4 linked regions of the Homo sapiens genome follow. The protein of the gene in region 3 interacts with the protein of the main gene of each other region in a pairwise test. Each region holds a gene or a part of one and is shown on either strand. Other genes may lie near its edges.

Region 1 (8,278 bases), on a different chromosome or scaffold from region 3:
GGACGAGACGAGACACAATATAAAGACAATGAAGACAGAATGGAAGACATACCTGGTGGTAGTACAGCCCCTGGCTTCTCTCCCCTAAAACATTGGCGACTGTGCCCTATCCATCCTTGATTATGTAAACCCAACTTCTCTATTTTGCTTGAACTAGTTCAAGTTCAGTTTATATTACCTGCCACTGAGAGGATCTTAATAGATCCTATTTTTACAAATGAGAAAGCAGAGTCTGGAGGAAGTGTGATTCACCCAAGGTCACACAAAGCTGGCCTGCCCATCTAGTTCCACTACATCCCACCATTGGAAGTTTAGCAGAGGCAGAAATGCCCAGGTCTCTGCTCTGCTTTTGTCTTTGTGACCTTCAAGAGGATCTGGCACCATCTCTTAAGGATCTCCAACTGTTTTTGATGTTAGAATCCTGTGGGCCCATCCAGACTTGACCCTGGAACATGGAGAGAAGTCAACAGAGTCAAGAAGGGGCAGAAGCTCAACCCTGGGCTTCCTGCTCTGTTTGAAAAAATGAGTATGTTATTGGTGTCCATCTTTTTCATGTGTCTCTTCCTAGCACCCAACACAGTAGCTGTCCCAAGCAGGCCCTAAGGACAGGTTTAATGAGTTCATCAATTAGGGTCTATGGGAACAGTAGGTGACAGCACTCAGGCTTTTGAGTAAGCCTGAGTCAAACTCTTACCTGTCCATAAGCAAAAAGTGGGAGAAGAGCCTCAGTTCTCATCTGGAAAATGGGGATAATCCCCAAAGGAAAAAACTGACAAGATGCTGTTAATGCTGATTCAAACTCTAGGACCCAAGACCTTAGTTTTTTGGGGGTTTTATTTATTTATTTTTGCTTGTTTGTTTTTTTGTTTTTGTTTTTTTTTTTGAGACGGAGTCTTGCTCTGTTGCCCAGGCTGGAGTACTATCACAGCTCACTGCAACCTTCACCACCCGGTTCAAGCAATGCTCATGTCTCAGCCTCTCATGTAGCTGGTATTACAGGCACCCACCACCATGCCCAGATCAGTTTTGTATTTTTAGTAGAGACGGGGCTTCGCCACATTGACTAGGCTGATTTCAAACTCCTAACCTCAAGTGACCGTCCTGCCTCCCACAAAGTGCTGGGATTACAGGCATGAGCCACCGCGCCCAGCCTAGAACCCAAGACTTTGTATGGGAGAAAATAAGAATCCATTCATGGGTTCCCTAGAGAGATAATGTGCTTTCAGGAAAAACAAAAACAAAAACAAAACCAAGAGACATGGAGTCTTTCTAGCCTCCTTAGCCTAGGAACAGGTGTGACACCTTGGGCAAGTCAGTAACCCTGAGTGTGAATTGCCTCCTCTGTAAAACGGGGCCTGCCTTAGAGCACCTTGGGGACTTCCTATCACCTTTATGATCCCCCAGGATATAGAGAGAATGAAATGAATATGGGTCAAGCCACTAACACCCTCTAATGCAAAAGCTTGTGGCTACTTTACCTGCACCTCATGGAGTCGTTGTGCTATGAGCTTGTCATAAAAACCCACCCAAGATAAACTGCTCTTTTTATATGAGTAAAAAATTTTTCACTGCTGCTTCACTGGAATCATTAAGCTGGAGCGGGGAGGGAAAGGTGACACAGGTTACAGATGGCTGAGGCCAGGGCCAGAGCAGATTTGACAGGGTCCTGGGGGAGTGGCTGAGGCTTCCCCGGGTATCTTAGGACAAGTGCAGCTCTGTTACAATTTTCAGAGAAGCAAGGGAGTAACCACAGTTTCTTCTTGTGGAAAGATATGCTAAAGGGGTGTTTCATGGACACCCAGAAGAAAAGCAATTCTGTGTTTGTAAAAGGGCCCCAGTGCAGTCCACAAGAGAAGGGTTATCAGGAACTCAGAACCATCTTCCAAAGCAGTCTTTTGTTTTTTTGAGATGGAGTTTCATTCTGTCTCCCAGGCTGGAATGCAGTGGCACAATCTCGGCTCACTGCAACCTCCACCTCCCGGGTTCAAGCGATTCTCCTGCCTCAGCCTCCCGAGCAGCTAGGATTACAGGCATGCGCCACCACACCTGGCTAATTTTTGTATTTTTAGTAGAGACGGGGTTTCACCATGTTGGCCAGGCTAGTCTCGAACTCCTGACCTCAAGAGATATGCCTGCCTTGGGCTCCCAAAGTGGTAGGATTACATGCGTGAGAGCCACCATGCCCACCCAGCCAAAAGCAGTCATCTTGATGATCCTTCTTAAGGATGAAATGGGAGAGAGGGGTCTTAGAGGGGAGGAGTAAAAGTTGTAGAGTAGGGTTCGAAGGATGAATTTGAGAGGTGTTTAGCTTGGGGAGCACTTGCTCTAGACCCTGTGCCTAAAGGGGATCTGGGAGGCGGGGGCTTGGGGGAGTATAGATCAGAGCAGGGAGAAATAAAAGTAAGAGTTTGGACAGATGTTAGGCTGGTTAATAGGGGAATTCCAGAAGAAGGTTTGGGGAAAATTTAGAATAGGGAGGTGTGGGGTGGACAGGGGTTTTAGGAGACTCTGAAAGGTGAGGTGAAACATGGGGTGGGGTGGGGTAGAATGGAGCTAGGTACTCCAGGTGAAAATATAACAATCTGGTCAAAATGAGGAAATGCTGAAGAGTGGATATACTTCTAAGCACTGCATTTTCACTTTTTGATAATTTGGTTACACCATGAAGTAGTCTTACAAATAAATACCTTTAAATGGTTTTGCCCATTTAAAAATAATTCTTCAGGATCAGGCACAGTGGCTGAGGCCTATAATCCCAGCACTTTGGGAGGCCAAGGTGGGCAGATCACTTGAGGTCAGGAGTTCGAGACCAGCCTGGCCAACATGGTGAAACCCCATCTCTACTAAAAATACAAAAATTAGCCGGGTGTAGTGGTGAGCACCTGTAATCCCAGCTAATCAGGAGGCTAAGGCAGGAGAATCACTGGAACCCAGGAGGCAGAGGTTGCAGTGAGCCAAGACTGTGCCACTGCACTCGGGCCTGGGCCACAGAGCTAGACTCTGTCTCAAAAAAAAAATTGTTCATATTTTCTTTCTAAAATGCGGAAACAAAATCTACAGTATGGAAGCAATTGAATAAATTTTGGTATGTCATAAAATAAAATACATGTAATTGTGTATGAAACATAGACGGGTGGTATATTAGATGGGAGAAAAAAGCAGGTTACTAAAAAGTGAACTTTTGTGATGTATCTTTTTTAAGTATAAGCATGTTGTAACATATATATATATATATATATATATATATATGAATGGATTCTGATCAAAATACACCAAAATGTTAACAGTGATTGTCCCTAGCCACTTATGCTGCTGGCCTGTCTTGTCTTCTTTTTATTTCTTCGAGACGGGGTCTCACTCTGTCCCCCAGGTTGGAGAGTAGTGGCACAATCTCAGCTCACTGCAACCTCCACATCCCAGGCTCAAGTGATCCTCCCACCTCAGCCTCCTGAGTAACTGGGACCACAGGTGAGCCACCAAGCCCGGCTAATTTTTTGTATTTTTGGTAGAGATGGGGTTTCACCCTGTTGCCCAGGCTGGTCTCGAACTCCTGAGCTCAGGTGATCCAACTGCCTCAGCGTTTCAAAGTGAAGTGGTGGGAATACAAGCGTGAGCCACCATGCCTGTCCTCATTTTTCTATAAGTGTACACTACTTTTATAATTGGGTCAAAAAAGACAACTGTAGAAGGATAAAAAATATTGAAGGACTAGTTTTTCTAATGCATTTTCAGCCTATTTGGAACTGGAGTGTTGTGAATGTTTTCATATTTACAAACTAGTATGAACAATCCAACTTCTCAATCTCTCATTTACATTTTTCTGACCTCTATGCATAGCCTAGGTGTGAGGTGATGGAAAAAGCTGGTTTAGAGATCAAGATGCTCAAACACAAAAGTCCCCCAAATCCTGAGAGTTTTTTGTTTTTTTAAAAAAATCCTTAAAACATTTAAAGACGCATAAAACTCTTCACCCACTCAGTGGTGCAAAAAATTTACCAATACTAGAAGGGGAGGAGGCTGGCAACGACTGGAAATATTCCCTTTCAAGTAATAAATAATGGTTATTTTGAACCAAATTGCTTTCCACCTCAAGTCCTCCATGGATGGGAGCCTGGAGGATGCAGTGATGGGGGTTATGGAATGGAAAGGAGCGTGGGTAATTGGGTTTGTGAGGATTGGGGCCAGGCAGAGGGAACTGGGGGCTTTTCCAGGACCACTGGGGAACACAGAGGCTGAGAAGGGGAGTGTGGGATGGGTTCGAGCTGGGGAGGACCTCGGCCTCGCCAGGCTCTAAGGAGAGTCACAGCTCACCACCTAGGGCGCTGGGACCACACGATGTCATGCCTGGGAGACTGAAGGGCTAGGACAGATTCTGAGAAAATGTGGACTGGAGATGGGGATTCCAGGTTCTCCCGGGAGTCCAGGCGAGGGAGTTCCGGCTTCAGGGAGTCCCAAGAGCTAGACTGGGAAGGGGCTGGTGCCCAGGACTATGAGAAATCCAGACTCCCCTGGGGTGTGAAAAAGGGCCGAGGTCCGGCTGAGGGAGAGCGAGTCTGAAAGAGTTCGGGCTCCCTTGCGGGTCCGAGAGTCTAACGAAGGCTCTGGGCACCCAGGCCGCACCTGAAGAGCACCAACGACTGCTCGGTCCGCGGCGCGGGAAGGAGATGTGCGGCTGAACCCCTACGCCGATTACTTAGCGGCGGCCCTATCGAGAGGGTGGTTCGAGCCCGAGGTGGCGCCGGTCCCGTAAATCGTGGAGGATCTCAGGTCCCCTGTGACCAAGGGCGTAGTCAGCTGTGTCATGGCGGCTTCCCTGTTCGAGAAACAGTTGGAAACTGGAGGCCGGTTGGGAGTCATGGTCGTTGGGCGCACGGAGGCCGGTTGGAAGCCATGGTCGTTGGGCGCCAGGAGGCCGGTTGAGAGCCGTGCTCGTTGGACGCGCGCAGACCTGGAGTTAGTCCCTGGGCGGAACCTGGAGCCCCGCGCGGCGCGTTGCCTGGGAGACGCATAAGGGGGCGGGGCCGGGGAGGGAGTGTCGCACATGCGCACAGAGCCCGGGCGGCTACGGAAGCGGTGAGACTGTCTCTCGGCTGCAGCCCTGGTGCGACCCGGCCCGTTGCCGTAGAGATGGGCAGGGCTGGATGGAGTGGGGTGCGGTGAGCTGAGCTGACCCTGCTTCGCCACGGGGACTGCAGTGACCCCGGCTTGCCGGCAGGGCGGGTAACAGGTTGAGCCAGGGTGGGGCTGCTCAGGGGCGTGGAGCCGAGGCCAGGATTTCTCTGAAGACCCGGCACAGGCTATTCCTTTCTGCGACGAGCCCATTGCTATGGAAACCAAAGCGTTAGGCCAGCGGGGATTGAGGCTGCGGGATCATGACGGGTCTCTCTCCCGAAGAACCTTGCCTAAGGCTTCCCCAAGCGGCTACTTCCTGAGCGAACCCGCCCACCCGCCTGAAGGAGAGAGGTAAAACCCTGGGGGTCCTGACACTAAGCAGGCGAAGAAGCCTATTCCAATGCCAGCTCCCCTAGGAAACCTACCCGGCCCACCCCTAGAAGTGATGCTTCGCTCTCGTTAACTCTTGGACTTTGTTCCATGTTTATAACTTAGTATTTCACGAACGCCCCGCGGTGTTTGTTCATTTTTCCCACACATAATGGACCATAAAGGTCGGCTTCTTTGCTTTATGACTCGTTCTGAACAAGTCCTTTTCCGCGCTGTGTCTCACTTTCCTCTTTTGTAAAATGGAAATATTAACTCTAGACGCCGGTCTGATTAGGTTGCTTTGAAGATCGAACCAGATGAGGGAAGCCAAATACTTCATAGGCTGTAAAGTGGTGAAGCTGAACTGCTACCGAGTTGCTATTTTTTTCTCCTCCTCCCTCTCAAGCTAAACGTTCTTTAGATCTTTTGTGATTTCTTCAGGTGGTCTTTGCGACTCCCTAGGCTCCGACCTGGAAGAAATCTTTTTTACACTTCCCTTTCACAGAGCCCTGCATTTTAACTTCCCTATCAGAAGCGAGAAAAATAGTTATCATTTTGAGAGGGCTTACTCTATGCCAAGCCCTGAGAAAACTCTTTACGTGGATTATCTCGTTTAATTTCACAACATCCTTTTAAGGTAGGTACTGTTATCCTATTTTCAAGCTCTGTCTGCCTGTAATTGCCTGTTTACTATCTGTTTCTCCCACTAGTCTTTGAGCTCCCTGAGAAAAGGGGCCATGCCTGTCTTGTACATTTCAGTATCTCCAACACCTAATACAGTGCCTGATAGAGATTGCTTTTTTTTTTTTTTTTTTTTTTTTTGAGATGGAGTCTCACGCTGTCTCCCAGGCTGGAGTGCAGTGGCACGATCTTGGCTCACTGCAGCCTCCGCCTCCCGGGTTCAAGCAATTCTCCCGTCTCAGCCTCCTGAGTAGCTGGGACTACAGGCCCATGCCACCACGCCTGGCTAATTTTTGTATTTTTAGTAGAGACGGGGGTTTCACCATGTTGGTCAGGCTGGTCTTGAACTCCTGACCTCAGGTGATCTGCCCGCCTCGGCCTTCCAAAGTGCTGGGATTATAGGCTTAAGCCACCGTGCCCAGCCCTGATAGATATTTCTTAACTAGCATGAAAATGACTCCTCGCATCACTACCCTCACCTGCAAGAGCATTGTCACTTCTGCAGACTTTTAGTGGCTATAATGAACAGCACATTCCTCTATTCCCGTTACCCACTGGGCACTGGTTTGGGGGGACATCAGTTCACTTCTCTATGGATTTTCTGATGACGAGGATCCAGAACATTCCTTAGCATTTAGACTTCCATCTGGGTTCAGGAGGCTTTTTCTTTGCCCTTCATATCACCTCTGTAGCAAGCCAGCCCTCTCTGTCCTTCCGGGAATGAGCCTGATGCATTTGAGTCTGGGGCATTGGCAGGTAGGATTTGCCTATACAACCTTTGGTCTTTCTCTTTAGTAGCCTCAGAACCACCCCCATCCCCACCCAGCCCCTCCCTGGAATTCTGGAGACACGCTGCCAGAGAACTCATTCTTTCCAGAAAACCTCTCAGAAGGCAGAGTCATAGCTGTTGGGAGTCATTTCTTCATTCAACAAATATTTATCAAGCACCTACTTGTGGGGACACAGCGCTTGGCACTAGTTGGTGATAGAGTGGGAGTGAAGACAGACACCATCATATCCCTAAAGGGCTCACAGTCTCTTGGGGAGACAGACATTAATCAAATAATCAGACAGATCGGAGCAAAACTACGTCTTCAGTAAGTGTTAGGAAGGAGAGAACATAGGGCTAAGAAAGCCTGGAGCAGAGTTGGTCAAACGTGAGGGAGGGGTGTGATCTAAGGAGATTTCCCTTAAAACAGTTACCTTTAAGTTGATATCTTAAGGCTCCTCAGACTTCTGCAGTCCTCTGCTGAATGGACCAGATCAGGATCTGATGGGTTCATAAGGAAAGAGACTGAGAGATCAGCAGGGGCAAAGGCCACTGGCTGGAGAGGACAGGTTGTCCCTAAGGAACTGTAAGTGGCTCGGTTCACCTGAGGCCCTTCAGAGCATGGAGAAGCCTAATAAGAGGCTGGAGAGACAGGCAGGAGCCAGGTCACAAATGGCCTTGACAGCCAAACTAAGTGGCTCCATCTTATCCTCACAGTGGATAGCCACTGAAATATATTAAGCAGGGAAACAAAACTTTGGCTCCTCATTTCTCGTGCCTGGTGAAGACTGCCACTTGGCCTTGAAAGGTGTGATCTAAATCCAAATGTCCCTATTTCAGCGGAATGTATAAAGATGTCCTGGTTTTTGCAGCTTTGTTTAAGACTGAGAAAGTGAGGGTCCGAGAGTCTAATGAATGCTCTGGGCACCCAGGCCGCACCTGAGGAGCACCGACGACTGCACGGTCTGCGGCGCGGGAAGCAGATCTGCGGCTGAACCTCTACCCCAATTACTTAGCGGCGACTGAGCCTATCGAGCAGGTGAAGGGAAGGGGTCTGCCTCTCCCTGGGGTGTGTTTCACAGCTCTGCTGCAGGCAGCATGATGCAGGTGTGGCAGGTCTTCCTAAGGCCCTGCTGTCTCTGTGCTTGTCCCTGGGGTTGCTGTGGTGCCCATTATGCTGGCTTCCAGGAAGCTTTCAGCCACTCCCTTTCCCAGGCCTTCTTCAGAGGCAAGGTGCAGGAGCATGTCTAACAATTTAGGACTTTGTATTTGACATCAGCTTCGCATGGGCATATCCTGTCTCTTTAAAGAGATGGTTCTTAGAGGGGGAAAATGGGAACCCTCCCT
Region 2 (7,283 bases), on a different chromosome or scaffold from region 3:
GGATATTCAATCCGTATAGATATTCTACATAGTCAAACTTTAATGGACTTACTCAGTTGCAGTTAAAATAGGTAGATCTCATTTTAATAAATATAGCAATGTTCTTGCCACTTCTAAAAGATTCAATGCTACTAATTCTCTTTGAGTTACAACGTGGAACATATCATAGATGTCTTTCCCCAATACTTTGCCTATTCAGAAGTCAGTATACTTAAATTGTGTTTGATATATCCATAATTTAATTTGATGTTCTTAGGAATTTAACCGGTTTTAAAAGGTCATTGATTTTGAAACTGGAAGATTTTTTTGACAGTTGAGACATGGCTAAGAGTAAACCTGGTCATCTTGATGATTTTTGCTTAGTTGGAAAGATAGGGAGTTAGTAAAAATAAGTACTAGGGAAAGGATAGGGCAGGTAACTATAGACATAGCCGTAATTTATTTTGTAAAAGACAGATGTAAACAAGGTTATTGTCCATATAATTTGCTATTCACCAAGTACTAGTCTTCCAGATGGTTTTAGATAATTTACATTTTTGAAATTCCCACTGTACTTTATAAATATACATACAGTATTTATCACATTAAATTAAAGTATTTGTTTAAAGGTCTATCTCCTCAATGGGAGGCTGAGGCAGGCGGATTACATGAGGCCAGGAGTTCGAGACCAGCCTGGCCAACATGGCAAAACCCCGTCTCTACTAAAAATACAAAAATTAGCTGGTTATGGTGGTACACACCTGTAATCCCAGCTACTCGCGAGGCTGAGGCGCGAGAATTGCTTGAATCTGGGAGGTAGAAGTTGCAGTGAGCCAACATGGCACCACTGTACTCCAGCCTGGTTGACGGAGTGAGACTTTGTCTCAAAATGAAACAAAAACACGCACAAAAAAAGGTCTAGTTCTTCAAAACTTCTTTTCTTGAAATGTCACCATGGTCTTATTAGACAGGAAAAGCCTCTGTGGCAGTTTATTTCCCACCCTAGGTAACCATAATATAGCCCATATTTCTTTTCATACCATTATCTAAAAACAACAACAAAAAATAATAATGGAGATAAACCTAAATGGATAAACTCCTTTTTAAACACTCATTTACTGTTATTATTTTGTGGGAGAGGAGTGGGGTCTTGCTCTGTTACCCAGGCTGGAGTACAGTGGCGCGCTCTCATAGCTCACTGTAACCTCAAACTCCTGGGCTCAAGCTGTCTTCCCACCTTAGTCTCCCAAGTAGCCAGGACTACGGGCACACACCACCATGCCTGGCTTAATTCTCAAAGTTTTTGTAGAGATGGAGTCTGGCTATGCTGGCCACATTTACTTAAGTATATCTTTTTATTAAATTCAAATACAGTTTAAATAAAAGGGACAAATTTAGGGCCTTTGTAATTAGTAAACGGTTTGTTTTTGTAAAGTTTTTCTACTGTTTTTAAATGTGAGGTAAGGTCATAATTTGCTTCATATTAGGTTGGTGCAAAAGTAATTGCAGATCTGCCTCTGAAAAGTACAAAATCTATTCGCTGTTACGTTAGGGCTCTATTTTGATAGTTTATTTTTATTTAGTAGTAGTCTATTGGGCCTTCAAAACTTGTTTAAGCATATTTATACATAATTATGTGCATCGTCTTGTGCTTTCTCACATTCATAAAGTAGATAGGAAAACTCCATAGGCATCAAGTGTAAACGAAGGACTTAATGTTGAATTTGTTGTGGAAATTGGCACAAATCTCAATATAGAACATTGGTTAATTATTAATCTTACCAAATGCTTATCTCACTTTCCCTAACTCAAGTTATACTCAAGAAATACAAAGATAATTGAATTCTAATCTATGCTGACATAAAACTTGCTGCAGAAATTAACACTTAAAACTTGCAAATTATATTGTCTTAGCCCAGGCTGCTCAAACAAAATACCATAGACAGGGTGGCTTAAACAACAGACGATTATTTGAGTTCTGGAGGCTGGCAAGTCCACAGTCATGGTCCGGCTCTGGTGAGGACCCTCTTGCTGGCTCGCAGATCCCTCCCTTCTTGCTGTATCCTCACACGGCCAAGAGAACGAGTTCTTGCCTCTTCTTACAAGGGTACAATCCTGTCATGGAGGTTTCTACCCTCATGACCTCAATCTAAAACTGATTATCTTCCAGAGACTCCACCATCACATCTTGGGGGTAAGGATTTCAACATAAGAATTTGAGGTGATGCAAACATTTAGTTCATAACACATATAAATTATTTTTTTTTACTTTGCTCATGAATTATTAGTGCTACTGTTTTGTACTATTTAAAATGCAGAAAATGGGAATTAAATATATAGGATTTAAAACAATGTGTCAAGAAATTCAAGGTTATCTGATTCTCATGCCATCGTGACTTGTTAGTTCATTTATTGAACAGGTAATTATTGAACAACTTAACTAGTTATACATACTTGATACTTAAGTGAATTGTATTATACATTTTACACATACTATGTATCAGTGAACAAATAAAAATCTTTTCTGTCATGGAACTTAATGCTCTAGGTAATAAAATAACATCTATAAACTCACTTAAACTTATCACTAGCAAATGAAAACTTATTATCTGGTAATTTCTAGAATTGTCATGTTAAATTGCTTTAAGTATGGAGCCAAAAGCACTACAGGTTGAGTATCCCTAATCTGAAAAATCTGAAATGCTCCAAAGTGAAACTTTTTGAGTGTCAGCATGACAGCACAAGTGAATTCCACACCTGACCCCATGTAATGGGTCACTGTCAAAATTTTGTTTCATGCACCAAATGACTGTATGAAATTACGTTCAGAGTATATATGGTGTGTGTGAAACATAAATGAATTTTGTGTTTAAACTTGGATACCATCCCCAAGACATCTGAGTATGTATATGCAAATATTTCAAAATCTGAAATCTGAAACACTTCTGGTCCTACCTTGGGACCAGCATTTTAGATAAGGGATACTCAACCTGTATTGAATATAATAAGATGTCATTGAAGTTGCCATTTTTAACTTCAGGAAAATTTTTAAATGGTAAAAGGTTAATTAGATTCTGTGAAGTATGTAAATTAATTCTGACTCTTAAAGTATACTGGGAGAGGCAAGGAGTTGTCTAGAGATTTGGGTTCCAGTACTGCTGTTAACTAGGTCGGTGATGTCCAAGTATTTGGTAATGTAACTGTTTTATGTCTTAGTGGTTCTCTCTAAACAATAAAGATTGCAGTCAATATATATTAACTACCATTTATTAAACACTTGCTGTGTGTCCCAGGTGCTATGCCAAACATCTTACATAAAGGTTCCATCAAGCTCTAAAATTGTAGGTATGAAATATCCCTGTTAACCTTTTGAGGACATTAATGTATTAATCTTGAATCATTGAAATATCTTGCTGCCCACTTCAGGTATATTATAAAATTAGCTTTAATTCCCTGGACTTAAGCAGAGATGTGGGTTCTGTGTATTTTCAAACATCTGTGTTATATAGTAAGATGATGTTTGATATTTTAAAATATTTATCTTCCCTGTCCTCCCCCTGCTTTTTTTTTTATACAGCTACCTGTACTACAGAAACATGGAATAACCCATATAATATGCATACGACAAAATATTGAAGCAAACTTTATTAAACCAAACTTTCAGCAGTTATTTAGGTAAGAATTATTGCTATGATTTGTAAAACACTTAATGAAGTTTCATTTCAGGTTTTGTACCATCAGTTGTTTCTGTACATATCTAGTTTGTAAAAATGGGTCATATAGTACATAGTTTTTTAAAATAAATTTTACTTAAAATACTTAAATAAATTATGCCCATAATGCAGAATTCTAAAGGTTCAAAAGAGTGTATATTGTCAAGAAGTTTCTGGGAAAGTAAAAATAAAAAAGAATTTAAAAATAATGTATACTGAAAAATAGGTTTTAGTGTACATTATTTTATCTCTTGAGGGATAAAGGAATTGAGTATCTAGGGGATAGGTTTAGGGAAACAGCATCTACTGTTACCTCTTTATTGGGTAGTTTTTGAGTGTTAGGTTAAATTTATGAGCATAGTCTTATAGATAAATTTTTTTTTACATTGGCTTTCTTTTTTACTTTATATTTTTTGGAGATTGGTTTATATCGGTATGTATATCAAACTGCTTATTCTTTTTAAGTTGCATTGTAATCCATTGTATGGCTATACTAAAATTTATTCAATTAGTCTGTTAGATATTTAGATTGTTTCTGGCCTTGTACTAATATGTATAGCATATAGTGACTATCATTGTACATATTACTCAATTTATATGTGAGCATATTGATAGGGCTTATTTGCAGAATTGCTGGATATAAGAGTATGAACATTTTAAATTTTGATAGATGTTGCAGATTGTTTTCCAGTGCGTTGTATCAGTGTACATTCCCATTATCAAGTATGTGAGAGTGACTCTTCCCTTAGTATCTCTCCAAGACGGAATTGTGAAACATTTTTAATTTCTCAAAGTCTAATGGAGTAAAAATGGTATCTCATTTGATGTTCTTATTTATCTTGTAAGTTCAGTTGAGCATGTAATGGTTTTTAATGTTCTTTATTTTAACTTCATTTTTAAAATAGAGTATATTACGCATGGTACAAAAGTGAAAGGATATGTAAACATATATAATGAAAGTAACTCTACTTTTTCTCTTAACCCAAGCCACCTTGCTCCTATCCTGGGAGGCAGCTTCTTCCTTCAATATCTATGTAAAAGTATATATGTTAAAAATATTTTAGGCCAGCACGGTGGCTCACGCCTGTAATCCCAGCATTTTGGGAGGCCGAGGTGGGCAGATCACCTGAGGTCAGGAGTTCGAGACCAGCCTGGCCAACATGGCAAAACCCCATCTCTACTAAAACAAAAATTACCTGAGCGTGGTGGCACATGCCTGTAATCCCAGCAGCTCAGGAGACTGAGGCAGGAGAATTGCTTGAACCCAGAAGGCAGAGGTTACAGTGAGCCGAGATCACACCACTGCACTCCAGCCTGGGCAACAGAGCAAGACACCGTCTCAAAAACAAAACAAAACAAAACAAAAAAAAAACAGCGCTGTGGCTTACACCTATAATCCCAGTACTTTGGGAGGCTGAGGAGGGTGGATCACGAGGTCGAGATTGAGACTGTCCTGGCCAACACAGTGAGACCCCGTCTCTACTAAAAATACAAAAATTATCTGGGCGTGGTGGCACATGCCTGTAGTCCCAGCTACTCAGGAGGCTGAGGCAGGAGAATCACTTGAACCTGGGAGGCAGAGGTTTCAGTGAGCCAAGATTGCCCCACTGCACTCCAGCCTGGCGACAGAGCAAGACTCTGTCTCAAAAATAAAAAAAAAAATTTAATGCTCTGCTTTATTTTTACAATGAAACCAATCTATAAATATCTGTAAATACAAGATACATACTCTAAAATACATTGTGTGAACATATAATAGAATACTATGTAACCATGAAAAAGAATGAAATATATGTATGTGTTTGGATTTGGGATGATCTCCAAGATAATGCATTACATGAATAAAGCAGGGTGTGGAACAATGTATATATTTGCAATGTGTTGAGTAAATATATATATACTACATTCCATATATTTATTCTTAATATATGCATAGAAAATTTCTGGACCAAGAGGCTAGAAACTTCATAGTGATTGCTTCTAAGAAGGAAAATTCAGGGCCTGTGATGGTAGAGGGACGTATTTTTCTTTCGTTTTTAATTTTGTTTTTTTTTGTTGTTGTTGTTTTTTTTTTTTTTTTGAGATGGAGTCTCACTCTGTCACCCAGGCTGGAGTGCAGTGGTGTGATCTTGGCTCACTGCAACCTCTGCCTCCTGGGTTCAAGCGATTCTCCTGCCTCAGCCTCCTGAGTAGCTGGGATTACAGGCATGTGCCACCACACCCAGCTAATTTTTTTTTTTTTTTTTTTTTTGGACAGAGTTTCGCTCTGTTGCCCAGGCTGGAGTGCAGTGGCATGATCTCGGCTCACTGCATCCTCCGCCTCCCAGGTTTAAGCAATTCTCTGCGTCAGCCTTCTAAGTAGCTGAGATTACAGGTGCCCACCACCACTCCCAGATAATTTTTTTTGTATTTTTAGTAGAGACGGGGTTTCAGCATCTTGGCCAGGCTGATCTTGAACTCCTGACCTCTTGATCCACCTGCCTCAGCCTCCCAAAGCACTGGGATTACAGGTGTGAGCCACCGCACCTGGCCTAATTTTTGTATTTTTAGTACAGACGGGGTTTCACCATGTTGGCCAGGCTGGTCTCGAACTCCTGACCTCGTGATCTGCCCACCTCGGCCTCCCAAAGCACTGGGATTTACAGGCGTAAGCCACTACGCTCAGCCGAGGGACATATTTTTCATGGTACCCTTGATATCCATGGGGGATTGCCTCCAGGAACCCCCATGAATAACAAAATCCTCAGATGCTCAAGTCCCTTATATAAACTGGTGTAATATTTGCATATAACCTGTGCACATTCTCTCATATACATTAAATCATCTCTAGATTACTTCTAATACTTAGTACAGTGTAAGTGCTGTGTGAATAGTATTGGATTTTATTTTTATTATTTTTAGTGTTGTATTTTACCTTATTTTTTGTTAATGTTTTTTATTGTTGTCGGTTGAATCCACAGGTATGAAATTCTTGGATATGGAGGGCTGACTCTTTACTTTTGTAGTGTTTTTTTTTTACACCATATTTAGTTTATTAAAACTAGTTATTAAAAAGGAATATCCCAAAACACTGATTTTTTTTTTTTTTTTTTTTTTTTTTTGAGACAGAGTCTCGCTCTGTCATCCAGGCTAGAATGCAGGGCTCACTGCAACCTCTGCCTCCCAAGTTCAGGCAATTCTTCTGCCTCAGCCTCCTGAGTAGCAGAGATTACAGGCATGTGCCACCACGCCTGGCTAATTTTTGTATTTTTAGTAGAGACGGGGTTTCACCATGTTGGTCAGGCTGGTCTCAAACTCCTGACCTCGTGATCCGCCTGCCTTGGCCTCCCACAGTGCTGGGATTACAGGCGTGAGCCACTGCGCCCGGCCTGAATTTTTTATAATTATGAAAGAAATACTTTTTTTTTTTTCAAAGATAGGATCTTTCTCTGCTGCCCAGCCTGGATTGCATTGGCATGATTTCTGTTCATTGTAGCCTTGACCTCCCAGGCTCAAGCAATCTTCCTGCCTCAGCCTTCCAAGTAGCTGGGACTACAGGTGCACCACCGGATCGGGCTAATTTTTTTTTTTTTTTTCTAGAGATGGGGTTTT
Region 3 (7,504 bases):
CCGTGAGGATTAACTGAGATTATATATGCAAAGCGCATAGAACAGCACCTGCTGAGAGCTTGCTCTTCTAATTCTTAGGAAGGTATTATGCAGAGAATAAGGAACTCCTTAAGATGATAAAGGAGCCCAGTACACCCAGGAACTCCACCACTTGTGCCCCACTGCAGAACAAATATTTACTGAACACCTACTATGTGCCAGGCATCGTTCTGGGCTCTAGAAATGCAACGGTGAACAACAACAAACCATAAACCCCTGCCCATATGGAAGCCATAAATGTGCAAAGAAATGGTAAATCCATTTACTGACCCTGAAAGCCCAGGCACAGATCCACAATTAATTACCAAAGCTACAAGGAACAGAAGAACAGGGAACCACACACACGCACACATAGAATCTGGCATAGTTCGAAACCACTCATCTTGGATTTTCTTTTTATTTATTTATTTATTTTTGAGACAGAGTCTCGCTCTGTCGCCCAGTGGCACGATCTTGGCTCACTGCAAGCTCCGCCTCCCGGGTTTACGCCATTCTCCTGCCTCAGCCTCCGGAATAGCTGGGACTACAGGCGCCCGCCACCACGCCCGGCTAATTTTTTCTATTTTTCAGTAGAGACAGGGTTTTACCGTGTTAGCCAGGATGGTCGTGATCTCCTGAACTGGTGATCCACCCGCCTCGGCCTCCCAAAGTGCTGGGATTACAAGCGTGAGCCACCACGCCCCGCCTTTTTTTTTATTTTTTTGAGACAAAGTCTCGCTCTTTGGCCAGGCTGGAGTGCAGTGGTGCCATCTGAGCTCACAGCAACCTCCTCCTCCCGGGTTCAAGCAATTGTCCCGCCTCAGCCTCCCAAGTAGCTGGGACTACAGGCGAACGCCACCAAACCCAGGTAATTTTTGTATTTTGAGCAGAGAAGGGAGTTTCACCATGTTGGCCAGGATGGTCTCCATCTCCTGACCTCGTGATCCGCCCGCCTCAGCCTCCCAAAATGCTGAGATTACAGGCTTGAGCCACCGCAGCTGGCCAGATTTTCTTAACAAGAACTCCAACTAACCGCCACCCTTCATTGAGCACCTACTGTCTCCCAGGCACCTGGGGGCGGGGCTGGGGGGGGGTGGGCCCGGGGCTTTTAGACATTATGTGATTGACAGAGTCGACTCAGCAAACCCGGTTGGTCCACTCTAGCACCTGATTTTACATGCACCCGTTTCCCCATCAATACATTTAAGAGCTTCAATTCCTTCCCTCCCTGACCCCTTCCTCATCACGACTGATTTCCTTTTATGGAGAAATCTGAAACAGTAACCCAACAGATATTTTTAAAGCAGGGCCTCAGACCCCACAGTGGGAAACCCAGGCTATATTCCTTAAATGATTGCGCCATCTTCATCTTACAACCCCAAAGGTGCCTATTGTCAAGCCCAAGGAAGATGCTGCCCACACGTGGGAGAGGGGCCCATGGGGTCAGGGGGAACGAAAGGCTCACTCAAGGTCAAAGGCTCCTTCATGAAGCGCAGGGCTGAGGGGAGAGGAGGGGTCAAGGAGACAGCAGACAAGGGACAGTAGTCCAGATTCTTGGGCAGAACGGGACACACAGAGGCTCAAGTCCTGGCTCTGGCACTGACTTTAGGGCAAGGGAGTTATGCGTCCTACATGAGCCTCAGTTTACTCCTCTGTGAAATGGGTGCATAACTGTATCTGCCTCCGGGGGCCACTGTGACAGTCCAGAGAGATAAGATAGACTAGGCTGTGGCGTGCGGTGATACCAATTACAATAAATAGGGTAAAAAACCGCCACTACTTCTGCTACAATTGCTGCTGTTGCTAAGGCTTTAGAATTTGCCTCCGGACATCTGGAAACAGAACCCAAAAGGGTAAACATGGACCTAGAGTCCGGGGTGGCCACGGGCCTAGATCCAAGGTAGTTGGGTAGAGGGGGGCTCTGCAGTCCCTGACCCCAGGCAGCGTCACCCACCGGTGAGGCACTCAGGGCGCTTGGCTCTACCTACACCATATGCGCTCGGGGGACTTGGCTGTTCGGGGCTGTCCAGACCCAGTGACCCCACTTCCCGGCCGCGACCCAAAGATGACGCGTGTCGTGTCTCCGGAGCGACTTGGGCTCGGAGGGGCCGGGGCACGGGTCGGAGGCGCGCTCCAGAGAGGAGCCCGCGGCGGGGCGGGCACCGGGGCAAGGTTCCTCGGGCTCAGGTCGGGCACGCAGGGCGCGGAGGCGCGAGCCCGGGCGGGCAAAGGCCAAGGTCAGAGGCTTCCCGCTCCCCCTACGCGATGCAGGAGCTACCGTCCTGGCCACCGCCCCCCGCCCCTGGGGAGGGTTCTCAGTCCACAAGCGGGGGCTCGATTTTGGCTTGGGTGGGGTCCTCTCCCCATCGCGGCGCTCCCCGCCCACGCCCGCGCCCCCAGACTCACCCTCTCCGGGGTACAGGTGGCCCGCGGCGCCCAGTAGCAGCGCGGCCACCGCCACCAGCAGCGGCGCGGCCGCCGCCCCCCGCCGGCCCCCGGTGGCCATGGCTGCGGGAGCGCGGGGTCTCCTCGGATCAGAGCGCGCGGCGCTGGCCCGCGGGGGTCATGCTCCGAGGCGGCCACCCAAGAGGCGCTGGGGGCCGCGCGTCCTTCTCTTCCACGCCCGCGACCCGCGGGCCGCAGCCCCCCTGCCGGGGAGGGCCCAGAGGCAGCCCCGGGAAGGGCGCGCGCGGCTTCGCCAGCTACAAATACTGAGCGGAGGCCCTTGCGGTGGTGGCCCCGACCCCCCGGCCGCTGCGGCCCGGGCCCCGTCCCAGGATCTCGGGGCCCGGAGCTCCGCGCTGCGCCCGGGACTGTCTCTCGGCTCTCGGCCCCGCGCGCTCTGGGTCGCGATCTGCGGGCTCCGGGACAGAGGGACGCGCGGACCGACGGACTAGCTGACTGGCGGGCGGGCACCTGGGCTGGCGGGTGGCGGGCGGGCGGCGGGAGAGAGGGCTGCTCGGGCCCGTAAACAACGCGGCCCGTCAGCTGGGCCCCGTGCGGGCCGCGGGAAAAGGCGGCGCGGATCTGGCCTAGGAAGGGACTCTGCGCCCGGGAGAGGCCCAGGAGAGGGAGGGAAAGCTTGCAGGGGAGGGAGGTGCCGCCCGGCCCCGCCCCGCCCCGCCCGCCTCCCCGCCTCCCTGTGCCGGGCCCCGCGCGGGAGGCCCTGGGCGCGCCGGGACCGAGGGCGCGCCCCAGATCCGCGCGCCCTACAGCCCCGAGTCTCCTCCAGTTTCAGACCCCCGGAGGCGCCCCACAGGCCCGACGCAGCGGCACAGATCCTTTCTCTACCATTTTGCTATTTTGTTCATAGTGGGCTTTGGAGGATTCCTGTTGATTTTTTAAAAAATACTGCATTAAAATGTTTATTTTGGTGACTCGAGGTGGTTTTGGTTTCTTTCTTTTTTTTTTTTTTTCACTCCCTTAAATTTTGCACCCCAGGCGAGTAGTGTCTCACTCGCCTTTCCTCAGTCCGGGCCTGGCCAGCGACACTCGTCCCAGAGCGCGTGGGCGCCCCCAGATGTCCCGCCCGCGAGTGCGCCCCGGCCCAGGGGCGAGACCCAAGCCAGGCCCCTGGGGACAGCCACGTGCCCGCGTGCCCAGTGCGCTCCCTGTGTTCAAGTTGGAGAAATGACACCTGGAAAAATGTGCAGACGCTTCTGAAAGGGCAAAGACGACGCCAAAGAAGACGCCGGAGACCTCGAATAGGGCGCAGGTGGACATCTCTGATTTTCAGCAGACCAGCCTGTATGTGTCTGAAGTCTAGCAACGACATTCACCAACAAGGCGGGACAGCGGTTCCACCTACCTTACTGCAGGAGAGGAAGGGGCTTTCAGTATAGGAAAGCCAGAACTCAATGGGAGGAGGGTTCCTCCACCCCTCACTCCTGTGTGGTCTTGGACCAGGGACTTTTCTGTCTCTGGGCCAGTTTCACTTGTGTAATGGGTTTAATAATACCTGCATGCCAGTTCTGGGGAGGTACCCGGGAAAGAAAACTTAAGAAAGCGCCCAGCACAACCCTAGACCCAAGGCATTCATTCTTCTTTCATTCAATAAACAGTTTGCTAGGAGCTGGACCCACTGTTCATGCAACAGGCCAAACCTATTCCTGCCTCTGGGCCTTTGCCCCAGCATTTCCCTTGCCCGTAACACTCCAGGATGGCTTCATCTCTGAAGTGCCATCCCTAACCATATTTTTGCAAATCCTCCCCCCAGTTCCGTTTCCTTCTCTCTCTCTCTCTCTCTGTTTTTTTTTTTTTTTTTTTTTTTTTTTTTTTTTTTTTTTTTTTAGATGGAGTTTTTCTCTGTTGCCCAGGCTGGAGTGCAATGGCCAGATCTCAGTTCACTGCAACATCACCTGCCTGGGTTCAAGTGATTCTCCTGCCTCAACCTCCCAAGTAACTTGGATTACAGGCATGCGCCAGCACACCCAGCTAATTTTCTGTATTTTTAGTAGAGACAGGATTTCACCATGTTGGCCTGGCCGGTCTCAAACTCCTGACCTCAGGTGATCCACCGGCCTTGGCCTCCCAAAGTGCTGGGATTACAGGCCTGAGCCACTGCGCCTGGCCCCTTCTCTCTCATTTTCATAGCATGTTTACCCCACTACCTGCAATTGTTTGTTTTTTTTTTTTCTTTTCTTTCTTTTTTTTTCCTTTTGACAGAATCTTGCTGTCACCCAGGCAGGAATGCAGTGGTGCAATCCTAGCTTACTGCAGCCTTGAACTCCTGGCCTCAAGCAATCCTCCTGCCTTGGCCTCCCAAGGTGCTAGGATTACAGGCATGCGCCACCATGATTGGCCTTGAAATTCTTATTCGTTTTCTGTGTCTTCTCCCCTTCCCGTGAAGGCGGAAATCTTTTCGGTCTTGTTTCACTGCTTAAACCCAGTGCCTGACAAATCTGTTGCTTAATAAATATTTGTTGAGTGGGAGAATCAACAAGCAATAAGTAATAGGGGATTTTTCAGTGAGCAAAATAAACATGACCCATTTCCTTATGGAGTTCACAACTGAGCCAGGGAGAGAGCCCTTAAAATAATTGAGTGTGTAATGAGCTGAGGGAAATGGGAGGTGCATAGGGAGGGGTTTGCTGAGGACATGGGGTTTTTTGTTTGTTTGTTTTTTGATGGATCTTACTCTGTTGCCCAGGCTGGAGTGCAGTGGCACGATCTTGGCTCACTGCAACCTCCGCCTCCCAGGTTCAAGCAATTCTCCTGCCTCAGCCTCCAGAGTAGCTGGGATTACAGGTGCATGCCACCACGCCTGCCTAATTTTTGTATTTTTAGTAGAGGCAGGGTTTCACCATATTGGACAGGCTGGTCTTGAACTCCTGACCTCAAGAGATCTGCCTGTCTCGGTCTCCCTAATTGCTGGGATTACAGACGCGTGAGCCACTGCACCTGACTGAGGATGTGATTTTGAGCTTAAGTCTGAAAATGAAGAGGAGCCATCCTAGGGAAGCCATAGGGATGTGTTTCAGGTGGGGGAAGGCATGAGCAAAGGCCCAGAGGAGAGTGGGCAAGGCATTCTTGCAACTGAACCAGGCATTCACTGTAGCTGCAGAAAAGAAAGAGGAGAAAGTGAAGCCATGGGTGAGAACTGCAGTGGGCCCTTGAACATGAGTTTGAACCGTGCACATCTTTTTTTTTTTTTTTTTTGAGGCAGAGTCTCGCTCTGTCACCCTGGCTGGAGTGCAGTGGAGCAATCTCAGCTCACTGCAATCTCCACCTCCAGGGTTCAAGCTATTCTCCTGCCTCAGCTTCCCAAGTATCTGGGACTACAGGCACACGCCACCTCACCCGGTTAATTTTTGTATTTTTAGTACAGACGGGATTTTACCATGTTGGCCAGGCTGGTATCGAACTCCTGACCTCAGCTGATCTGATCAGCCTCCCAAAGTGAGGTCATCTTTAAACAGAATGTTTTTCAATAAATATATTGGAAACATTTTTAGAGATTTGCAATAGTTTGAAAAGACTTGCAGATGAACTTGGTAGCCAAGAAATATTAAAAAAAAATTAGGTATGTCATGAATGCATAAAATATATGTAGATACTAGTCTGTTTTATTATTTTTGTTATTATTTTCTTTTAGAGACAGGGTCTTGCTCTGTTGCCCAGGCTGGAGAGCAGTGGCCCAATCATGGCTCACTGTAACCTCCAACTCCTGGGTTCAAGCGATCTTCCTGGCAAGCACCAACACGCCCGGCTAATTTTTTTACTTTTTATAGAGACGAGGTCTCACCATGTTGCCCAGGCTGGTCTCTAACTCCTGAACTCAAGTGATCCTCCTGCCTCTACCTCCCACAGTGCCGAGATTACAGGTATAAGCCACCATGTCCAGCCCTATTTTATAATTTGCTAACATAAAATATACACAAATCTGTTACAAAAAGTTAAAATGTATTAAAACGTACACACACACTTACAAACCATACATGGTGTTATTCCAAGTCAAGAGAAATGTAAATAAATGTAAAGATGCAGCATTCAATCATAACTGCATAAAATTAACTATAGAATATATTGTGTTATTGTAACAATTTCATAGCCACCTCCTGTTGCTACTGGAGTGAGTGCAAGTGTTGCAAGTATCCGCTTTAAATGCCATGTTACATTAATTATCTCCCTGTGGGCAGTTCACCTCTCCAGGAATTTGTGCCCCGGTAAAAAGGGATCTCTTGGCGGTTCCCGCGTATTTTTCACTGTGTTTAGTGCAATACCGCAAACATTGAATAACATCCTGAGACCCATGTAAAGTGCCACTAGTGATGCTGGAAATGCTCCCGAGAAGCAGAGAAAAGTCAGGACAGGACAAGAAAAAGTTGAATTGCTTGCTACGTAACATAAATGGAGCTCTACAGCTGCGGTTGTCTGCTTCAGACAGACAATTCATCTTGTAAACAAATTTATGGCATTGATAAATATTGTAGCGTTCTGTAACTGTAAATGTATTTTCTCTTCCTTGTGATTTTCTTTTTCTTTTTCTTTTTTTCTTCTTTTTGGAGACAGGGTTTCACTCTGCTGCCCAGACTGGAGTGCAGTGGCACCATCAGGGCTCACTGCAGCCTCTACCTCCTGATCTCGGGTGATCCTCCTGCCTCAGCCTCCCAGGGAGCTGGGATTACAGCCACATGACACCATGCCCAGCTGTGATTTTTTAAATAACATTTTCTCTTCTCTAACTTGCTTTATTCTAAGACTGTAGTGTGTAGAGGCTGGGCACAGTGGTTCACTCCTGTAATCCCAGCACTTTGCAAGACAGAGGGAGGCGGATCACTTGAGGTCAGGAGTTCGAGACCAGCCTGGCCAACATTACAAAACCCCATATTTACTAAAAATACAAAAATTAGCCAGGCGTGGTGTGCTTGTAATTCCAGCTACTCTGGAGGGCTGAGGCATGAGAATTACTTGAACCTAACAGGCGGAGGTTGCAGTGAGCCAAGATCATGCCACTAGCGCACTCCAGCCTAGGTGATGCAGTAAG
Region 4 (7,283 bases), on a different chromosome or scaffold from region 3:
TTCTAATTAACAGCTTCATTTAAAGAAACACAATTAAGGTCCTGGGCGCCTCCCAGGCCCTGATCCACAAAGTGATTGTAATCCCTCCTCCACCGCCCTCCGGACCATCTGCTCTGCAAACTCTTTCCCCAGCCGCTGTGAAGGTGAACCTCACTTAGTGGAATTTTCGAGCTGGCAGGGTCCCAGACACCTCATGTCACAAATCGGGAGAGAAACCTTCCCACCCTCTGAGGGTCTGCACGGGATCCCAGGAGGAGCCCAGCCCCTCAAGGATAGTGGGCAGGGATCATGGGCCCTCAGTGGGGACTGTCCACTCAGTGGTATCCGGGCCAAGAGAGAGCCTTCCCCTGGGCTTTCTGAAGTTTCAGTGGAAAATCAATTTGCAAATGGCAGATAAATGAGAGAAAAGGCATACAAATTTATTTATTTATTTTTATTTTATTATTTTATTTTTTAGAGGTAAGGTCTTGCTCTGTCACCCAGGCTGGAGTACAGTGGTGCAATCAAGCTCACTGCAGCCTCGACCTCCTGGGCTCGACTGATCTGCCTGCCTCAGCCTCCCAAGTAACTGGGACTGTAGGCACATGCCACGATGACTGGCTTAATTTTTTTTTTTTTTTGAGATGGAGTCTCGCTCCATCATCCAGGCTGGAATGTAATGGCACAATCTCAGCTCACTGCAACCTCCACCTCGCAGGTTCAAGCAATTCTCCTGCCTCAGCCTCCCAAGTAGCTGAGATTATAGGCACCTGCCAACAAGCCCAGCTAATTTTTATATTTTTAGCAGAGACGGGGTTTCCCCATGGTGGTCAGGCTCGTCTCGAACTCTTGACCTCAGGTGATCTGACAACCTCATCATCCCAAAGTGCTGGGATTACAGGCGTGAGCCACTGCAACTGGCCTTTTTTTTTTTTTTTTTTTTTTTAGAGACGGGATCGGGATCGTGCTATGTTGTCCAGGCTGGTCTTGAATTCCTGGGTTCAAGAGACCCGCCTGCCTCGGCCTCCCAAAGCACTGGGATTACAGGCATGAGCCACAGTGCTTAGCTGCACAAGGCAGATTAATAGGAGAAAAAGCATGTAAATTTATTTAACGTGTATACATAGGAGCCTTCAGAATGAAGACTCAAAGATACAGGGGAGGGCTGGGCGTGGTGGTGCACGCCTGTAATCCCAGCACTTTGGGAGGCTGAGGCAGGCACATCACCTGAGGTCAGGAGTTCGAGACCAGCCTGGCCAACATGGGGAAACCCCATCTCTACTAAAAATGCAAAAATTAGCTGGAGGTGGAGGCGGGCCCGCTGTGATCCCAGCTACTCAGGAGGCTGAGACAGGAGAATTGCTTGAACCTGGGAGGCGGAGGTTGCAGTGAGCTGAGATTGCACCACTGAACTCCACTGGGTGACAGAGTGAGACTCAGTCTCAAAAAAAAAAAAAAAATCCCAGGCATGGTGGCTCATGCCTGTAATCCCAGTACTTTGGGAGGCCGAGGCAGGCGGATCACGAGGTCAGGAGTTTGAGACCAGCTTGGCCAACATGGTGAAACCTCATCTCTACTAAAAATACAAAAATTAGCTGGGCCTGGTGGTGGCATGCACCTGTAATCCCAGCTACTTGGGAGGCTGAGGCAGGAGAATCACTTGAACCTGGGAGGCAGAGGTTGCAGTGAGCCGAGATCACACCACTGCACTCCAGCCTGGGCAACAGAGGGAGACTCTGTCTCAAAAAAAGGATACAGGGAAATGGTCCATTTTTATGCTTAGGTTCAGCAAAGTATGGACAGCAGTGTAGAAAGAGGATTGGATACAAAGGGTAGGATCTAAAGGGAATAGACTGAGCAGGGGACCCAGCCAGGCCTGTCTGTCCAGATTCTTCTTGGCCTCTCTGAGTAGCATTCCTTCCTTCTGGGTGTGGGACAGAACCCTATCTTGAATGGGGGTCTTATGACCTACAGTCAAACCAGGCAGATTGGGTAATTTCTTTCTTTCTTTTTTTCTTTCTTTCTTGCTTTCCTTTCCTTCTTCCGTTTCTTTCTTTCCTTTTGTTTTTACTTTTTTTTTCTGCTCCGTTGCCCAAGCAGGAGGGCAGTGGGGCATGATCACAGCTCACTGCAGCCTCCAACTCCTGGACTCCATTGACCCTCCTGCCTCACCACCACGCCCAGCTAATTTTCTTTTATTAAGATGAGATTCTCAGGGCCGGGCGCGGTGGCTCATGCCTGTAATCCCAACACTTTGGAAGGCCAAGGTGGGCGGATCACCTGAGGTTGGGAGTTTGAGATCAGCCTGGCCAACATGGAGAAACCCCATCTCTACTAAAAATACAAAATCAGCCGGGCGTGGTGGTACATGCCTGTAATATCAGCTACTCGGGAGGCTGAGGCAGGAGAATTGCTTGAACCCCCGGGAGGCAGAGGTTGCAGTGAGCCAGGATTGCGTCATTGCACTCCAGCCTGGGCAACAAGAGCAAAACTCTGTCTAAAAAAAAAAAAAAAAAAAAAGACGTGTTCTTGCGGCCAGGTGCAGTGGCTCACGCCTGTAATCCCCACACTCTGGGAGGCCAAGGCGGGCAGATCACCAGTTTGAGACCAGCGTGGCCAACATGGTGAAACCCCATCTCTGCAAAAAATACAAAAAAAAAAAAAAAATTAGCTGGGCATGGTGGCGCATGCTTGTGATCCCAGCTACTCAGGAGGCTGAGGCAGGGGAATCACTTGAACCCGGGAGGCAGAAGTTGCGGTGAGCTGAGATCGTGCCACTGCACTCCAGCCTGGGTGACAGAGCAAGACTCCCATCTCAAAACAAACAAACAAACAAAAAAGATGGGGGTCTCGCTATGTTGCCCGAGCTGATCTCAAACTCCTGACCTCAAGTGATCCTCCCACCTCAGCCTCCCAGAATGCTAGGATTACAAACATGAGCCACTGTGCCTGGCTGGATAATTTCTTTATGACAAGTTTTTACATAGAATATTTTTAGGTTGGCCGGGCGCAGTGGCTCACGCCTGTAATCCCAGCATTTTTGGAGGACGAGGCAGGCAGATCACGAGGTCAGTTTGAGACCAGCCTGGCCAACACAGTGAAACCTCATCTCTACTAAAAATACAAAAAAATTAGCCGGGCATGGTGGCAGATGCCTGTAATCCCAGCTACTCAGGAGGCTGAGGCAGGAGAATCGCTTGAACCCAGGAGGCAGAGGCAAAGTGAGCCGAGATCGCGCCACTGCACTCCAGCCCTGGCAACAGAGTGAGACTCCGTCTCAAAAAAAAAAAAAGAATATTTTTAGGTTTTATGACTACGTTTTGGGAAAAGGGGTTCTGGTTTCTGTGACCCACCTTGGGAAAAAGGGACTTTTGTTTCTCTGGTGCCTCTGGGGAGAAGAGGACTGAGAGACAAGTAGGCAGGAGAAGGTCAGAGAAAAACTTTTTTGTTCGAGGCTGCTGCTGAGGACTTTGTTTTGCGGTATTGTTTTCTGAGCCCCAACAGTGGCCTGGTCAATCACACGGTGGCCACAGAGCCAGTGTAGGGTGGGACAGAGGGACATGGAGGCAGAGGGAGGTGACCAGAGCCAGGAGGCCTAGATGCTGGGCCATGGGACTGCCAGCCACTGCCTGGCCACATAAGTAGCCTGTGGTCCGAGTCCAAGTCCCACGGCAGGACATGGTTTCCATTTCTTGTCTCCACAGTGACAGTGAGGAAGACACCGAGCTCTCCTGTACCCGAGGAGGCTGTCTGGCCAGCCGCGTGGCCTCCTGCAGCTGTGAGCTCCTGACTGATGGTAGGTAGGGGGACAGGGTTGAAGGAGGGGCACACTCAGGGTGGACAGATAAAGATACGTGCATCTTACCTGCCACTTCCCCAGCAGTCGACCTGCCCCGCCCCCCAGAGACGACAGCCGTGGGTGCAGTGGTGACAGCCCCCCACAGCCGAGGTCGAGATGCCGTCAGAGAATCCCTGATCCACGTCCCGCTAGAGACCTTTCTGCAGACCCTGGAATCCCCGGGCGGCAGCGGCAGTGACAGCAATAACACAGGTGCCAGTGGGGACAGCCTGCTCTTCCCATCCCACCTCTCCTGGACCCCCACCCCCAGCCATGGCCACCCATGGGCTCCCTAAACCTTGCTAAGCCTCAGAAGCTGTGACATCTCATCCTCCTGGGTCCTTCACACGTCTCCGAAGTACTTCTGGCTTTTGTAGACTGGTCTAGGAACCTGGCCCCTCCCACTGGACCCAGTTTCAATAGAAAATGTTCACAGGGGCCGGGTGCGGTGGCTCACGCCTGTAATCCCAACACTTTGGGAAGCCAAGGCGGGCGGATCACCTGAGGTCAGGAGTTTGAGACCAGCCTGGCTAACATGGCAAAACCCCGTCACTACTAAAAATATAAAAATTAGCTGGGTGTGGTGGTGCACACATGTACTCACAGCTACTCGGGAGGCTGAGGCAGGAAAATCACTTGAACCCGGGAGGCGGAGGTTGCAGTGAGCCAAGATCACGCCACTGCACTCCAGCCTGGGCGACAGAGTGAGACTATGTCTCAAAAAAAAAAGAAAGAAAAGAAAATGCTCACAGGGGCTGGGTGCAGTGTCTCACACCTGTAATCCCAGCCAGTGTTTTTTGAGGCTGAGGATCACTTGAAGCCAGGAGTTTGAGACTAGCCTGGACAACATAGCAAGACGCTATCTGTACAAAATTTTTGAGACAAGAGTCTCACTTTGTTGCCCACGCTGGAGTGCAGTGGCGGATCACAACTCACTGCAACCTCCACCCCCAAGTCCAAGCAATTCTCACGTCTCAGCCTCCCGAGTAGCTGAGATTACTGGTGCCCGCCACCTCGCCTGGCTCATTTTTGTATTTTTGGTAGAGATGGGGTTTTGCCATGTTGGCCAGGCTGATCTTGAACTCCTGCCCTAAGTGCTGGAATTATAGGTGTGAGCCACCACGCCTGGCCACAAACATTTTTGTGCCTGTAGTCCCAGCTACTTGGGAGGCCGAGGTGGGAGGATCACTTGAGCCCAGGAGGTCAAGCCTACAGTGAACTGTGATCACACCATTGCACTCCAGCCTGAGCAACAGAGAGAGACCCTGTGAAAAGAAAAAAAAAAAAAAAAAAGAAAAGAAAAGAAGAAAGGAGGGAGGGAGGGAGGGAGGGAAGGAAGGAGCTCACAGAAAAGGGTCCATAGGGTTGGAATCAGGGATTGGGAACAGGCGACTGGATTTGTTCCTAAGTTTGCTGATGACTTACAGAGTAACTCCAGGATAGTCCTTCACAGCTCTGTGCCTCAGTTTACCTCATAGACTTCACCAGTGGGTTGGGTCAGCTCCCTGCCCAACTCTAAAATTATTCCAGCTGGGCACAGTGGCTCATACCTGTAATCTCAGCACTTCAAGCAGCCAAGGCAGGAGGATCGTTTGAGCCCAGGACTTCCAGACTAGTCTGGGCAACAAGACTCTGTCTCTACAAAAAATAAACAAAAATTAGCCAGGCATTGTGGCACAGGCTTATAGTCCTAGCTACCCAGGAGGCTGAGGTGGGAGGATTGCTTGAGCCCAGGAGGCCAAGGCTGCAGTGAGCTATGATTGTGCCACTAGACTTCAGCCTGGGTGACAGAGCAAGACCCTATCTCAAAAAATAAATAAATAAATAAAATTATTTGGCTGGGCGCAGTGGCTCACACCTGTAATCCCAGCACTTTGGGAGGCCAAGACGGGCGGATTGCCTGAGCTCAGGAGTTAAGACCGGCCTGAGCAACATGGTGAAACCCTGTCTCTACTAAAAATACAAAAATTAGCCTGGTATAGTGGTGCATGACTGTAATCCCAGATACTTGGGAGGCTGAGGCAGGAGAATCACTAGAACCTGCAAGACGGAGGTTGCAGTGAGTCGAGATCACGCCACTGCATTCCAGCCTGGGCAACAGAGCAAGACTCTGTCTCAAACAAAAAAATATTCAGGCCAGGTGCAGTGGCTCACACCTGTAATCCCAGCACTTTGGGAGGCCAAGGCAGGAGGATCACTTGAGCCTAGGAGTTTGAGACCAGCCTGGGGAACACAGCAAGACTCCATCTCTAAAAAATAAAAAATAAGGCTGGGCGCAATGGCTTACACCTATAATCGCAGCACTTTGGGAGGCCGAGGTGGGTGGATCATCTGAGGTCAGGAGTTTGAGACCAGCCTGACCAACACAGTGAAACCCCATCTCTACTAAAAATACAAAAATTAGTTGGGTGTGGTGGTGGGCGCCTGTAATCCCAGCTACTCGGGAGGCTGAGGCAGGAGAATCGCTTGAACCCGGAAGGCAGAGGTTACAGTCAGCCACCGGGATTGCAGCATTGCACTCCAGCCTGGGCGACAAGAGCGAAACTTCGTCTCAAAAAAAAAATAAAAACTAAAAACCAACCAACTTTTTAAACATTATTCCAACAGCATTTTGCATGTAAAAAAACCAACAAGACGTCACCTCTCTTCTCACATTTATTTATTTGTCCCCCTTTCTCCTTCCCCCCATGTTCCTCACACTGTCATCCCCACCTCAGGGGAACAGGGTGCAGAGACGGATCCCGAGGCTGAACCCGAGCTGGAGCTATCCGACTACCCATGGTTCCACGGGACACTGTCCCGGGTCAAGGCTGCTCAACTGGTTCTGGCAGGGGGGCCCCGGAACCACGGCCTCTTCGTGATCCGCCAAAGTGAGACTCGGCCTGGGGAGTACGTGCTGACCTTCAACTTCCAGGGCAAGGCCAAGGCAAGTGTGTGGGGGGCGCCATGGGGGTGCAGTGGCCAGCCCTGAGGGAGAGGGGTCATGGTGACCCCGGTCCTGAGGCTGTGCCCTGGAAGCAGCTGCAGGCGAACAGGTGTGGCATGACTTCCCACGGGCCCCACTCACCCCAGCCATGCTCCGTGAGCCACCTGCGTCCCTCCTACACATCACTGAGGGACTGCAGTCAGCCCTATTTCAGCCTCTGCATTCTCCAGAAGGGGAGGCCACCTACTGGCGGCTGAGCCCTCAGGAGGCTGGGCCCTTCTAATAACCCAAATTTGCAAATCCTTTCAGCTCCTGCGCGCGGGGGATCTCATAGCACTGGAGCTTCGGAGGGTCTCCACCCAGAGATCGCCCAGTGGGGGGTGGGAGCCAACCAAGGCCCTCAGAGCCCCACCTTCTGCCCCACCGACCTCAGACAGCCCCTCTTCCCTGCCCAGGTTAGGTCACCAACCCCTGAGGAACACACACGGGCAAACCCTAGAGACCCAGCAGGGGAGGAGGAGCTGGGCTGGGTGGGAGAGC

The links.
Region 1: the proteins of INSR (region 3) and DUSP18 interact in a two-hybrid assay, tested with the Homo sapiens proteins (one study listed by BioGRID and IntAct).
Region 2: the proteins of INSR (region 3) and STYX interact in a two-hybrid assay, tested with the Homo sapiens proteins (one study listed by BioGRID and IntAct).
Region 4: the proteins of INSR (region 3) and SH2B2 interact in a two-hybrid assay, tested with the Homo sapiens proteins (one study listed by BioGRID).

What each region holds. Positions count from the first base shown.
Region 1 is NC_000022.11:30,664,647-30,672,924, reverse strand, and holds the start of DUSP18 (dual specificity protein phosphatase 18), read left to right. Parts: upstream 1-5,049; 5' UTR 5,050-5,463; intron 5,464-5,986; exon of another isoform or gene 5,987-6,118; intron 6,119-7,365; exon of another isoform or gene 7,366-7,367; coding exon of another isoform or gene 7,368-7,432; intron 7,433-7,803; exon of another isoform or gene 7,804-7,970; intron 7,971-8,278. UniProt on the Homo sapiens protein: Can dephosphorylate single and diphosphorylated synthetic MAPK peptides, with preference for the phosphotyrosine and diphosphorylated forms over phosphothreonine. In vitro, dephosphorylates p-nitrophenyl phosphate (pNPP).
Region 2 is NC_000014.9:52,747,127-52,754,409, forward strand, and holds part of STYX (serine/threonine/tyrosine-interacting protein), read left to right. Parts: intron 1-3,556; coding exon 3,557-3,654; intron 3,655-7,283. UniProt on the Homo sapiens protein: Catalytically inactive phosphatase. Acts as a nuclear anchor for MAPK1/MAPK3 (ERK1/ERK2). Modulates cell-fate decisions and cell migration by spatiotemporal regulation of MAPK1/MAPK3 (ERK1/ERK2).
Region 3 is NC_000019.10:7,291,368-7,298,871, forward strand, and holds the start of INSR (insulin receptor isoform Long preproprotein), read right to left. Parts: upstream 3,048-7,504; 5' UTR 2,525-3,047; coding exon 2,425-2,524; intron 1-2,424. UniProt on the Homo sapiens protein: Receptor tyrosine kinase which mediates the pleiotropic actions of insulin.
Region 4 is NC_000007.14:102,310,653-102,317,935, forward strand, and holds part of SH2B2 (SH2B adapter protein 2), read left to right. Parts: intron 1-3,683; coding exon 3,684-3,775; intron 3,776-3,859; coding exon 3,860-4,030; intron 4,031-6,534; coding exon 6,535-6,743; intron 6,744-7,283. UniProt on the Homo sapiens protein: Adapter protein for several members of the tyrosine kinase receptor family. Involved in multiple signaling pathways. May be involved in coupling from immunoreceptor to Ras signaling. Acts as a negative regulator of cytokine signaling in collaboration with CBL.